Homo sapiens: one gene and its partners. The protein of the gene in region 1 purifies or fractionates together with the protein of each later gene. This does not show direct contact. Each region holds a gene or a part of one and is shown in the gene's direction. Other genes may lie near its edges. The genes, in order: TOMM70, AMBRA1 and MARCHF5.

The links.
Region 2: the proteins of TOMM70 (region 1) and AMBRA1 purify together in Homo sapiens (affinity purification with western blotting, with the first as the bait; one study listed by BioGRID). This does not show direct contact.
Region 3: the proteins of TOMM70 (region 1) and MARCHF5 purify together in Homo sapiens (affinity purification with western blotting; 2 studies listed by BioGRID, with this or other methods). This does not show direct contact.

The regions. Positions count from the first base shown.
Region 1 is NC_000003.12:100,366,522-100,370,174, reverse strand, and holds part of TOMM70 (mitochondrial import receptor subunit TOM70), read left to right. Parts: intron 1-1,039; coding exon 1,040-1,137; intron 1,138-2,008; coding exon 2,009-2,131; intron 2,132-3,653. UniProt on the Homo sapiens protein: Acts as a receptor of the preprotein translocase complex of the outer mitochondrial membrane (TOM complex). Recognizes and mediates the translocation of mitochondrial preproteins from the cytosol into the mitochondria in a chaperone dependent manner.
Region 2 is NC_000011.10:46,398,866-46,402,073, reverse strand, and holds part of AMBRA1 (activating molecule in BECN1-regulated autophagy protein 1), read left to right. Parts: intron 1-3,208. UniProt on the Homo sapiens protein: Substrate-recognition component of a DCX (DDB1-CUL4-X-box) E3 ubiquitin-protein ligase complex involved in cell cycle control and autophagy.
Region 3 is NC_000010.11:92,311,646-92,315,298, forward strand, and holds part of MARCHF5 (E3 ubiquitin-protein ligase MARCHF5), read left to right. Parts: intron 1-3,653. UniProt on the Homo sapiens protein: Mitochondrial E3 ubiquitin-protein ligase that plays a crucial role in the control of mitochondrial morphology by acting as a positive regulator of mitochondrial fission and as an important regulator of immune response.

The DNA.
Region 1 (3,653 bases):
TTTCTACTTTCTATATCTTTCTGATTTTTATTATAAAGAAGATGTGCTGGCTACATTTCTTTGATATTTTTAAGAGCGATTTTTAAAATATTTAAGTTGGCTTATTTTAGATATGAAAAGACTAAGAGCCATACAGCTAAATATAATGACTCACATACTTCTTAAAAGTCATCTTATAAATAACCGGGGTTAACTGAATATGGGCTAGGTATTATAGATAATATTAGGGAATTATTTTTGGAGATATATTAGTTGAAGCAGTTATAGCTGCTTTTTAAAAAATCAATAATTTTAAACAAATAGCTCTGAAGACATTTAACACATACATCTTAACTTATACTTCCAAATGAATATTGCCCTTAAGATAATTCCCTGGCCAGGTGCGGTGGCTCACTCCTGTAATCCTAGAACTTTGGGAGGCCGAGGTGGGTGGATCACCTGAGGTCAGGAGTTCGAGACCAACCTGGCCAACATGGTGAAACCCCATCTCTACTAAAAATACAAAAATTAGCCAGGCAAGGTGTTGGGCGCCTGTAGTCCCAGCTACTCAGGAGGCTGAGGCAGGGGGATCACTTGAACCCAAGAGGCGGAGGTTGCAGAAAACAGAGATTGCGCCACTACACCCCAGCCTGGGTGACAAGAATGAAACTCTATCTCAAAAAAAAAAAAAAAAAAATTCCCTTGGGCTGTATTATGATAAATTATGAATAAGTGATGTGACTGTACCTATGAGAATGTGATATTAGAGCTGTGACTAAGAATGGGATTATCTGTATTGAACAGTTTACCAGAGATTATCTGCTGTGGCATATAACTAACCACTTGCTGAAGAAAGAGGATAGTTAAGATTTCATATTTATAGCAGTGCCACCTAAAAACTCCGATAATTAAGATGTAAAATGTAAATCAGTCTGTATCCCCAAAACGTGATAATTTTGTAATAATGAATGAAGTAAATTTTTATAATGAATAATAAGTATACTTTTAACTGCTTAGGTTGACGGTTACCTTAATATAACTGAAGTATCTCCTCACATAGGCATTAACAGATCAACAACAGTTTGGTAAAGCTGATGAAATGTATGATAAATGTATTGATTTGGAACCAGATAATGCTACAACATATGTTCATAAAGGGTATGTATTTTTGTGATTGTTCCAATGAGATAATAAATTTCTTGCATAGTAATAAAATGTATTTATTTTGGCCACTGAGGAAGGGGACTGTGGTAGAGAAGTTAATTGACAAACTTCTTAATGCTCCTAGATGTCTTTTCATTCTTACAGAAATTAGTTAAGGAGGCCAGGCGCAGTGGCTTACACGTAATCCTAGTACTTTGGGAGGCCGAGGCAGGCAGATCATCTGAGGTTGGGAGTTCGAAACCCTCCTGACCAACATGGTGAAACCCGGTGTCTACTAAAACTACAAAAAATTAGCCAGGTGTGGTGGCACATGCCCGATTCCCAGCTACTCAGCAGGCTAAGGAGTGAGAATCACTTGAACCTGGGAGGCAGAGGTTGCAGTGAGCCAAGATTGCACCACTGCTCTCCAGCCTGGGCGGCAGAGTGAGGCTCTGTCCCAAAAAAAACAAAAAGAAAGAAATTAATGTACTATTCTTGCTCTGTGTTAAGGGTTTTAATTTCAAACTGAACATCCTGTCAGCTGTTGGCTTATATCCAAATACGAAGCATACACAAGTGTTCGTGTCCTTGCGTACTTGAATTATCCTAAGAAACTTCACTTAAATTTATATAAAGTGAAAAATAAGGGATGCAAGATTGGTAATAGAGCCTAGACCATTGAACACTTTTTGTAATAAGGAACTTAGACTAGCAAACCAATATAAGCTGAGAAAAAAAACACAATTTGATGCTGATTATATATTGCCTTATAAGTTATAAGTTAACTTATAAGTTCATTGAAGGCAGAAATTGAGTCATATTAATGTGTGTGTATTCCTACTGATACTGGGCCATGGTCACATCTGACATTTTTTTGCATTTGCAGTTTACTTCAACTTCAGTGGAAGCAAGATCTGGATAGAGGTTTGGAACTTATCAGCAAGGCTATTGAAATTGACAATAAATGTGATTTTGCCTATGAAACCATGGGAACTATTGAAGTACAAAGGTAACTTCTGGAGTCTGTTAGGAAATATATGGTAGCTCCATAGATATTTAGCTTTTTGTTCTTATTACGTACATGTTAAAGTCTGTTATGTTCTTTCCTCTTTTCACCTGTATTATTCACGTTGGAAAAAAAAATGTGCTAAGGCAGTGACATAAGGATTGGTAGCCAAGTTGCCAGAAAATCTGGACCCTCCTCCAAAGAAGCATCCAGCCAAATGGCTGGGCAAGTTGCAACATCAACTCAGAGCCCCTGAATTTTCTTTAAAATCAGAGTTGGATAAGAACATTTTTTGCAGCTCTGTCCTTAACCTCTTATTTTGTGTAAGTGTTTATCCAGAGTTGCTCTTAAGATCCACCATTAAAAGGTGACAGCTGTTTTATATATGGGATTTATTGTATACCATCTTAATACTGGTATTGCCATTCATTTGAGTTTCCTACTTTAGGCCAAGTATTAAACTTTAGATGTTTCCTAAGTACTATTTCAATTAATCTTCATCCCCATCTTTATAAAGGTGGAGATTATATGATCCCTAATTTAACTGATGCCCAGAGGGCTTAGGTTTACAAGGTTGCACAGTAAGCCAATAGAGAAGACAGGGTTTGAGCTCATATATCACTGATACCACAGTCACTGATCTTGGCATTATCACTTGTCAGGAAGCAGCATGAGTTTTCTTAATTCCCTATCATTCAGCCCCTCCTGTAGTCCTCTCCCTGCTCTACAGTAGGCAGAATATATATAGGCTGGTAAAAAAAAAATTGTGTTTCTTTTAACCATTCTGTACCCACAGTGGCATGTAAATATTAAGTTTTTTTTTCTTCTTTTTATGAGACAGAGTCTCCAGCCCAGGCTGGAGTACAGTGGCACAATCTTGACTCTGCAACCTCTGCCTCCCAGGTTCAAGTGATTCTTGTACCTCAGCCACCCAAGTAGCTGGGACTACAGGCATGCACCACCATGCCCAGCTAACTTTTTGTATTTGTAGCAGAGATGGGCTTTTGCCATGTTGGCCAGGATGGTCTCAAACTCTCGGCCTCAAGTGATTTGCCCATCTCAGCCTCCTGAAGTGCTGGGATTACAGGTGTGAGCCACTGCACCCAGCCTAAATTATTTCTTAATTGCTAATTTGTTAATGTGAATAAAATATTCTTGTACTAGAATAGGATAGGGTGGTAGTTCTTAATCTTTTTTGAGCGAAGCTGTGGATTCTTCTTAGAATAATGCACACAAAAACACTTTGCTTTTAATTCAAGGCTTTCATAGATCCTGGGTTAACTAAAGACCTCTGATAGGGTTTGATGGAATTTTGTTCACGTTAATTGAACTTTGAAAAAATCCATTCTGAACCTTACAATTAAATAAGTGAATTTGAATAAATGAAATTGCAGATTATCCTAGGATTTTGCAGATCTGCTAGCTGTTGGCCTAATGCCAGAACATGAACTCTTGAAAAAAGTTTTTTTTAAAAATAAGCCTATCACGTTGCCATATATTATAATGGGGGATTAAATATAGTCAC
Region 2 (3,208 bases), on another chromosome or scaffold:
GAAGTGGGTGGCAGAGGAGATGGGACGAGAGCATGGCACAGTGTGCACAGTGTATGCCCATCTGTGCAGGCAGGGAGCAGGGCTGCCGGGTACCTGCAGGAATGTGGGGGACAGGGCAGGAAGGTCTGCAGCATGATAAGGGTCTGGCCAGAGAGCCCTCAAATGTCAAGCTAAGGAGTTTTGACTACTGTGAGGGCTTTTGCAGCTGCTGGGTTTTGAACAGGGTGCAGACTTAACCAGAGCTCAAGTCAGCAGAGCTGAATTAGGATGGTAATAGGAACAGTGTGGAGACTAGACGGAAGGGGAGGAGACTGGAAGCAAGAAGCCCAGTTAGGACACAGTCATAGCCATAGAGAGGGGTGGCCAGGCCTGGAGCCATAGGCAAGCAAGCAGTGGGCTCAGACTTGAGTGCCAGCAGCAGGGCCTCCCGCAGAGCCTGGGAAAGCCCATCCGGGGCTCTCTGGGGGCTTGGCTGCAGCAGCACCCATAGGGCCCCAAGGCAGCCTGTTCTGCCCCTGGTAATCTACTTGAGAAGAGCTGAGCTGGGTGCGGTGGCTCATGCCTCCCAGAACTTTGGGAGGTCCAAGTGGGTGGATCACAAGGTCAGGAGTCTGATACCAGCCTGGCCAGCATGATGAAACACTGTCTCTACTAAAAATACAAAAATTAGCTGGGTATGGTGGCACATGCCTGTAGTCCCAGCTACTCGGGAGGCTGAGGCAGGAGAATTGCATGAACCCGGGAAGTGGAGGTTGCAGTGAGCTGAGATCATGTCACTGCACTCCAGTCTGGGCGACAGAGCGAGACTCTGTCTCGAAAAGAGCTGAGAATTCACTAGGCACAGCGCCTGGCACAGTGCACTCCAATGCCAGCAGGCCTCAGGCCAGCCACAGCACGCCCCAGACCATGCTGCGAGGGCTTCAGTGCACAGAGTTCTGAGAAAGCATTGGGGCTACAGTGAGCACAGGGAGGGCCCCAGGGGACCTCCCCAGGCAGCCCTTGGCTCCCAGGGTAGAATCTCTGTGGGCACCAAGGCCGTAGGTTGACTTTTTTCTTCTTACCTTCTGCCCCACTGTTAGAAGGCTTTAAAACCTGAAGATGGGGTTGACCCAGTACTCTGAGAGCCCTTCAGGTTTTCTCTCCTTCTGCCCTGGGAGCTGGAGCCGGGTGTCCCAGGAGGAAGTGGGGAAGGGCAGCCACCTTGAGGGATGGAGGGCAGTGCTTTATCAGGGGTTGTCCAGAAAAGCAAGAGAGGACATAATGCTGAGGAAGATCGTCTAAGACTGGGGCTGGGCGCAGTGACTCACCCATGTAATCCCAGCATTTTGGGAGGCCAAGGCAGGAGGATTGCTTGAGCCCAGGAGTTCAAGACCAGCCTGGGCAACACGGCGAAACCGTCTCTGCAAAAAGTACAAAAAATTAGCCAGGAGTGGTGCTTGCCTGTACTCCCTACTACTCAGGAGGCTGAGGTGGGTGGATCACTTGCACCCAAGAGGCTAAGCTACAGTGAGCCATGTTTGTACCATTGCACTCCAGTTTAGGTGACATAGCGAGACCTGGTCTCAAAAAAAAAAAAAAAAAAAAAAAAAAAAAAAAAAAACTATAGAAAGAACTAGAAGCATGAGGCTGCCAAGTACCAACAAGAAGGGTGAGAGATCTCTTGGGGCCTTAGATGCCACCAAGCTGTGAAACTGGCTGGCCTGGAAATCCAACTCTAATGAGGCAGGCAGAGAGAAGGGGATGGATGGGGTTAGGGGAGCAAAGAAAGTCTCATAAAAATAGCTGCTGGCAAGTACCCCAAAAGGAAAGAAAACTCACCATCAAAACCCCCAAAACTGCAAAATTCCAAACAGTAGCTGATGGAGACAAATCAGCAGTTCAGTGGAGCCATCCCTCGCAGCCTCAGAGCCTTGATCATAGTTGCCCACGGTCTTGGCCTGGTTCTCACCCTACCAAGAGCTGAGCAGAAAGCTGGAAGGGAGGTCCCACAGCAATAGAGCTCCACTGCTGCAGACCCCAAGTTAATCACAACAGGCACCGTTGACCAAGTGCCTGGGCTGTGCGTTAGCTCCTTTTCTCTCTCCAGCACCGTGCAAGGTAGATGTTAGGGATTTTTTTCAAGGTCACCCAGCAAGCAAGTGACAGCTGAGATTTGAGCCGAAGTCTTTTCTGTTCCCACACAAGGGAATGCTCAGGCATTTCTGCAGAGGGAGTGGCGGACAGATCCTTCTCTCCCTCCCTAGACCTGGGTCCTGTGCTGGTCAGTTGACTCTTTTCCGGGAAATATGGCATCAGGCATTGAGCCCCAGGAGAACAATAACTGGGGAATAGCTTGTGAAGACTGGGGGGTAAAGGGAAAGAAGAGAAGGAAACAGCCCTTCCAAGGAACAGTTAAAACTCTCAGCTTCTGACCAGGCACGGTGGCTCACGCCTGTAATCCCAACACTTTGGGAGGCCTAGGTGGGCGGATCGCCTGAAGTCAGGAGGTCGAGAGCAGCCTGGCCAACATGGTGGAACCCCATCTCTACTAAAAATACAAAAAATTAGCCAGGTGTGGTGGGAGCCTGTAATCCCAGCTACTCAGGAGGCTGAGGCAGGAGAATCGCTTGAACCTGGGAGGTGGAGGTTGCAGTGAGCCAAGATTGTGCCACTGCACTTCAGCCTGAGTGACAAGAGCAAAACTCCATCTCAAAAAACAAAGGCTGGGCACGGTGGCTCATGCCTATAATCCCAGCCTTTTGGGAGGCTGAGGCAGGCAGATTACCTGAGGTCAGGAGTTCGAGACTGGCCTGGCTAACATGGTGAAACCCCGTCTCTACTAAAAATACAAAAATTAGCTGGGTGTGGTGGCGGGCACCTGTAATCCCAGCTACTCGGAGGCTGAGGCGGAAGAATGGCTTGAACCCAGGAAGTGGAGGTTGCAGTGAGCTGAGATCGCATCATTGCACTCCAGCCTGGGCGACTAGAACAAAACTCCATTTCAAAAAAATAAATAAATATGGCCAGGCGTGGTGGCTCACGCCTGTAATCCTAGCACTTTGGGAGGCCGAGGAGGGTGGATCACCTGAGGTCAGGAGCTCGAAACCAGCCTGGCCAACATGGGGAAACACCATCTCTACTAAAAATACAAAAATGAGCCAGGTATGATGGTGCATGCCTGTAATCCCAGCTACTTGGGAGGCTGAGGCAGGATAATTGCTTGAACCCG
Region 3 (3,653 bases), on another chromosome or scaffold:
AAAAAACTAACTTAGCTTAATTATCTGGAGACGGTGTAAGAGAAAGAAAGCAGTAGTATGTTCTAATACTTCTCCTTAATTCTTCCTTTTAAGGAATAAAAGTAGAGAAATTAAATATTTAATAAGATGTGACGTTAAACTCATCTTTGGAATCCAATTTATGTGGTTTCTTTCATGAACCCTGCTATCCCTTTTCTGTGAAGTGGCAGGTAAGAAATAACCAAAGATCTTTGAGAACAGGCCTAGCATGGAAAAAAAGTATAGCAGACTGCTTACAAGAAGCATTCTAAGGCTGCTTCTTTAGCAGCAGTATAACTAAGGCTGATATTTAGTGAGCCTGTTCCATTACAGCCATACAGTTATAAATTGGTGTCAATCTCTTGGTTTGGTGTTTATACCATGCCAGTTGTTAAACATTTTTTTATAACCCTTGACTGTAACCAAGAGGTATAGGAAGGCAGCTTGGGTTCTGGGAAGGTCATAAGGAAAGAATGTCTTTGGGGGCAGAGGGAATTCAGGAAAAATTGGAAATAATTATTATATATATTGTTTTTTATAAGTGCTATTCATACTGAAATCAGACCAATGTTTTTGAAAATGTGGCAACATAAATGCAGATAATGAAGTGCTTTTCTAATATGAGAAGATTAATAATAAGGGCAAACAAAATGTCCTTGGTTCTCTGTTTTTCTCTAACATGCACAGGAAGAAATGATAGCTTCCTTTGAAGGGGAAGTAGTGTAGTAGAGAAAGTAGTGTTTTCAAACATTTGGAATTTGTGGACCATGTGATGGGTCTTCAGTGCATACCACTGATTTTAGATAAACACAAAAGAATAATTCAAAATGTTTTTATTGTAAGATCAAAGAAGTATTTTTAAATCAGTATCAGGAAAAGCAATGATTGTTCACATTATTGTACCACCACATGAATGGTGAAAGACTCACTAAAGTCCAAGTTAAGGTTTCATATTTAACTGATTTCTTTTCTTGCTCTTAGTTGTACTAAATTAGATAGCCCCACCTTTGAATTATAGAGTTGGGAAGAGCAACAATTAAATATTTCTATTAGATGTTTTAGATATTCAAATGGACACAAAAATTATTACAAGAATTCTCACTGAAAACTACATCAAGTTGACAAGTGTATGGCACTCGAAAGCAAAGTTGAGTATTTTAATTTTGGAGATGGCAATGTGTAGATCTGTCCTTTTGGTTGAATTCAGTTCTAGGAAATATGTTTTCAGGTTTAGTGCAGTAATTGAATATGGTTTTAAGTCTACCTAGTTGTTAGAAAAGAGTAAATCTTGGCTGGGCGTGGCGGCTCACGCCTGTAATCCCAGCACTTTGGGAGGCAGAGGCGGGCAGATCACGAGGTCAGGAGTTCGAGACCAACCCGGCCAATATGGTGAAACTATGTCTTTACTAAAAATACAAAAGTTAGCTGGACATGGTGGCGTGTGCCTGTAGTCCCAGCTACTCAGGAGGCTGAGGCAGAAGAGTTGCTTGAACCCAGGAGGCAAAGGTTGCAGTGAGCCAAGATCGTGCCACTGCACACAAGCCTGGGCGACAGAGCCGAGACTCCATCTCAAAGAAAAAAGAAAAGAGTAAAACTCTTTGGTTAAGCCATTTGTATCATTATTTAGTCTGCATATTTTGTTACTAAGAATTGTGGCCGGGCCGGGCGCGGTGGCTCACACCTGTAATCCCAGCACTTTGGGAGGCCAAGGCTGGCAGATCACGAGGTCAGGAGATCGAGACCATCCTGGCTAACACAGTGAAACCCCATCTCTACTAAAAATACAAAAAAATTAGCCAGCCTTGGTGGCAGGTGCCTCTAGTTCCAGCTACTCGGGAGGCTGAGGCAGGAGAATGGCGTAAACCCGGGAGGCAGAGCTTGCAGTGAGCCAAGATAGCGCCACAGCACTCCAGCCTGGGAGATAGAGCGAGACGCCGTGCTAAAAAAAAAAATTGTGGCGGGTCACAGTGGCTCACACCTGTAATCCCAACACTTTGGGAAGCTGGGGCGAGTAGATTGCTTGAGACCAGCCTGGGCAACAGGGTGAAACTCCATCTCTACCAAAAATAACAAAAAAAAATTAGCTGGGCATGGTGGCACACACCTGTAGTCCCAGCTACTCAGGAGGCTGAGGTGGGAGGATTGCCTTAGCCTGTGAGGTGGAGGCCACAGTGAGCTGTGATTGCGCCACTGTACTCCAGCTTGGGAGACAGAGTGAGACCCTGTCTGAACAACAAAAAAGAATTGTGGCCAGTCATGGTAGCTCACATCTGTAATCCCAGCACTTTTGAGGCTCAGGTGGGTGGATTGCTTGTGGTTACGAGGTCAGGATCAGCCTAGGCAACATAGCAAAACCTTGTCTCTCTACAAAAAAGAAAAAGAAAAAGAAAAAAAATTAGCCAAGTGTGATGGAGCACACCTGTTGTAAGTCCTAGCTACTCGGGAGGCTCAGCTGGGAGGATCACTTGAGCCCAGGAGTTTGGGGCTGCATTGAGCTATGATTGCGCCACTACCCTCTAGCCTGGGTGACAGAGTGAAACCAATCTTAAATAAAAGAGAGAATTATAATTTTACTCTCAAATGATATGTTCAAGCTGGTCACTATACTGTCTGTCATAGAGGTATGGCACTTGAGTTAGCCGCTTAAAATCATAGATATGTTTTAATGACATCAGTGTTATAAAAAAAAATGAATATCCGCTGGGCACGGTGGCTCACGCCTGTAATCCCAACACTGGGAGGCCAAGGCAGGCGGATCACCTGATATCAGGAGTTCAAGACCAGCTTGGCCAACATGGTGAAACCTTGTGTCTACTAAAAATACAAAAATTAGCCAGGCGTGGTGGCAGGCGCCTGTAATCCCAGCTACTTGGGAGGCTGAGGTAGGACAATCACGTGAACCTGGGAGGCAGAGGTTGCTGTGAGCCAAGCTCACACCATTGCACTCCAGCCTGGGCGACAGAGCAAGACTCTGTCTCAAAAAAAGAAAAAAAAAAGTATATCCTTCATTTGAGTAGGTATTGTTAGCATATTTCCTCTTGACAAAACAGAAAAACAGAGTATTTGCTGCTGCTGCTTCCCCCCGCCCCCCCCCGCCAATAGAGGTTGGGTCTTGCTATGTTGTCCAGGCTTGTCTCAAACTCCTGGGCTCAAGCAATCCACCTACCTTGGCCTCCCAAAGTGCTAGGATCACAGGCATGAGCCACTGTGTGCCCAGCCTGCCGCTGCATTCTTAACATGCTGAAGATACCTATTCAAGGGCTGCAATTTTAATTATATTCACAATTTTCCATGCAGTTATTAACAATGACTCAAGCCAGCTGTTGTCTGTAAATGAAGCCATGTGTGAATTGGCTTTCAGGTGGTGGGCTCTTCATTGCTGCACACAAAGCTAGTGCTCTAGCTATGCTGATTCCAGCACAACTTTTCAATTCAAGTTTCAAAAATAATTGTTGGTTAAAAGAAAATATCTTCTTCTAAAACTTTTAAAAAGTTGCTTGTATTTCTTGATTAACATGTTACATTCGTATATACTAAGAGTTGATTCGTACTCTGTACGCTAGTGGCTTCATGCAGCCATTAAACAAAATACTTAAGAGCCTGCATCTGTGATAATAATTGTTCTTCCTCTCTGT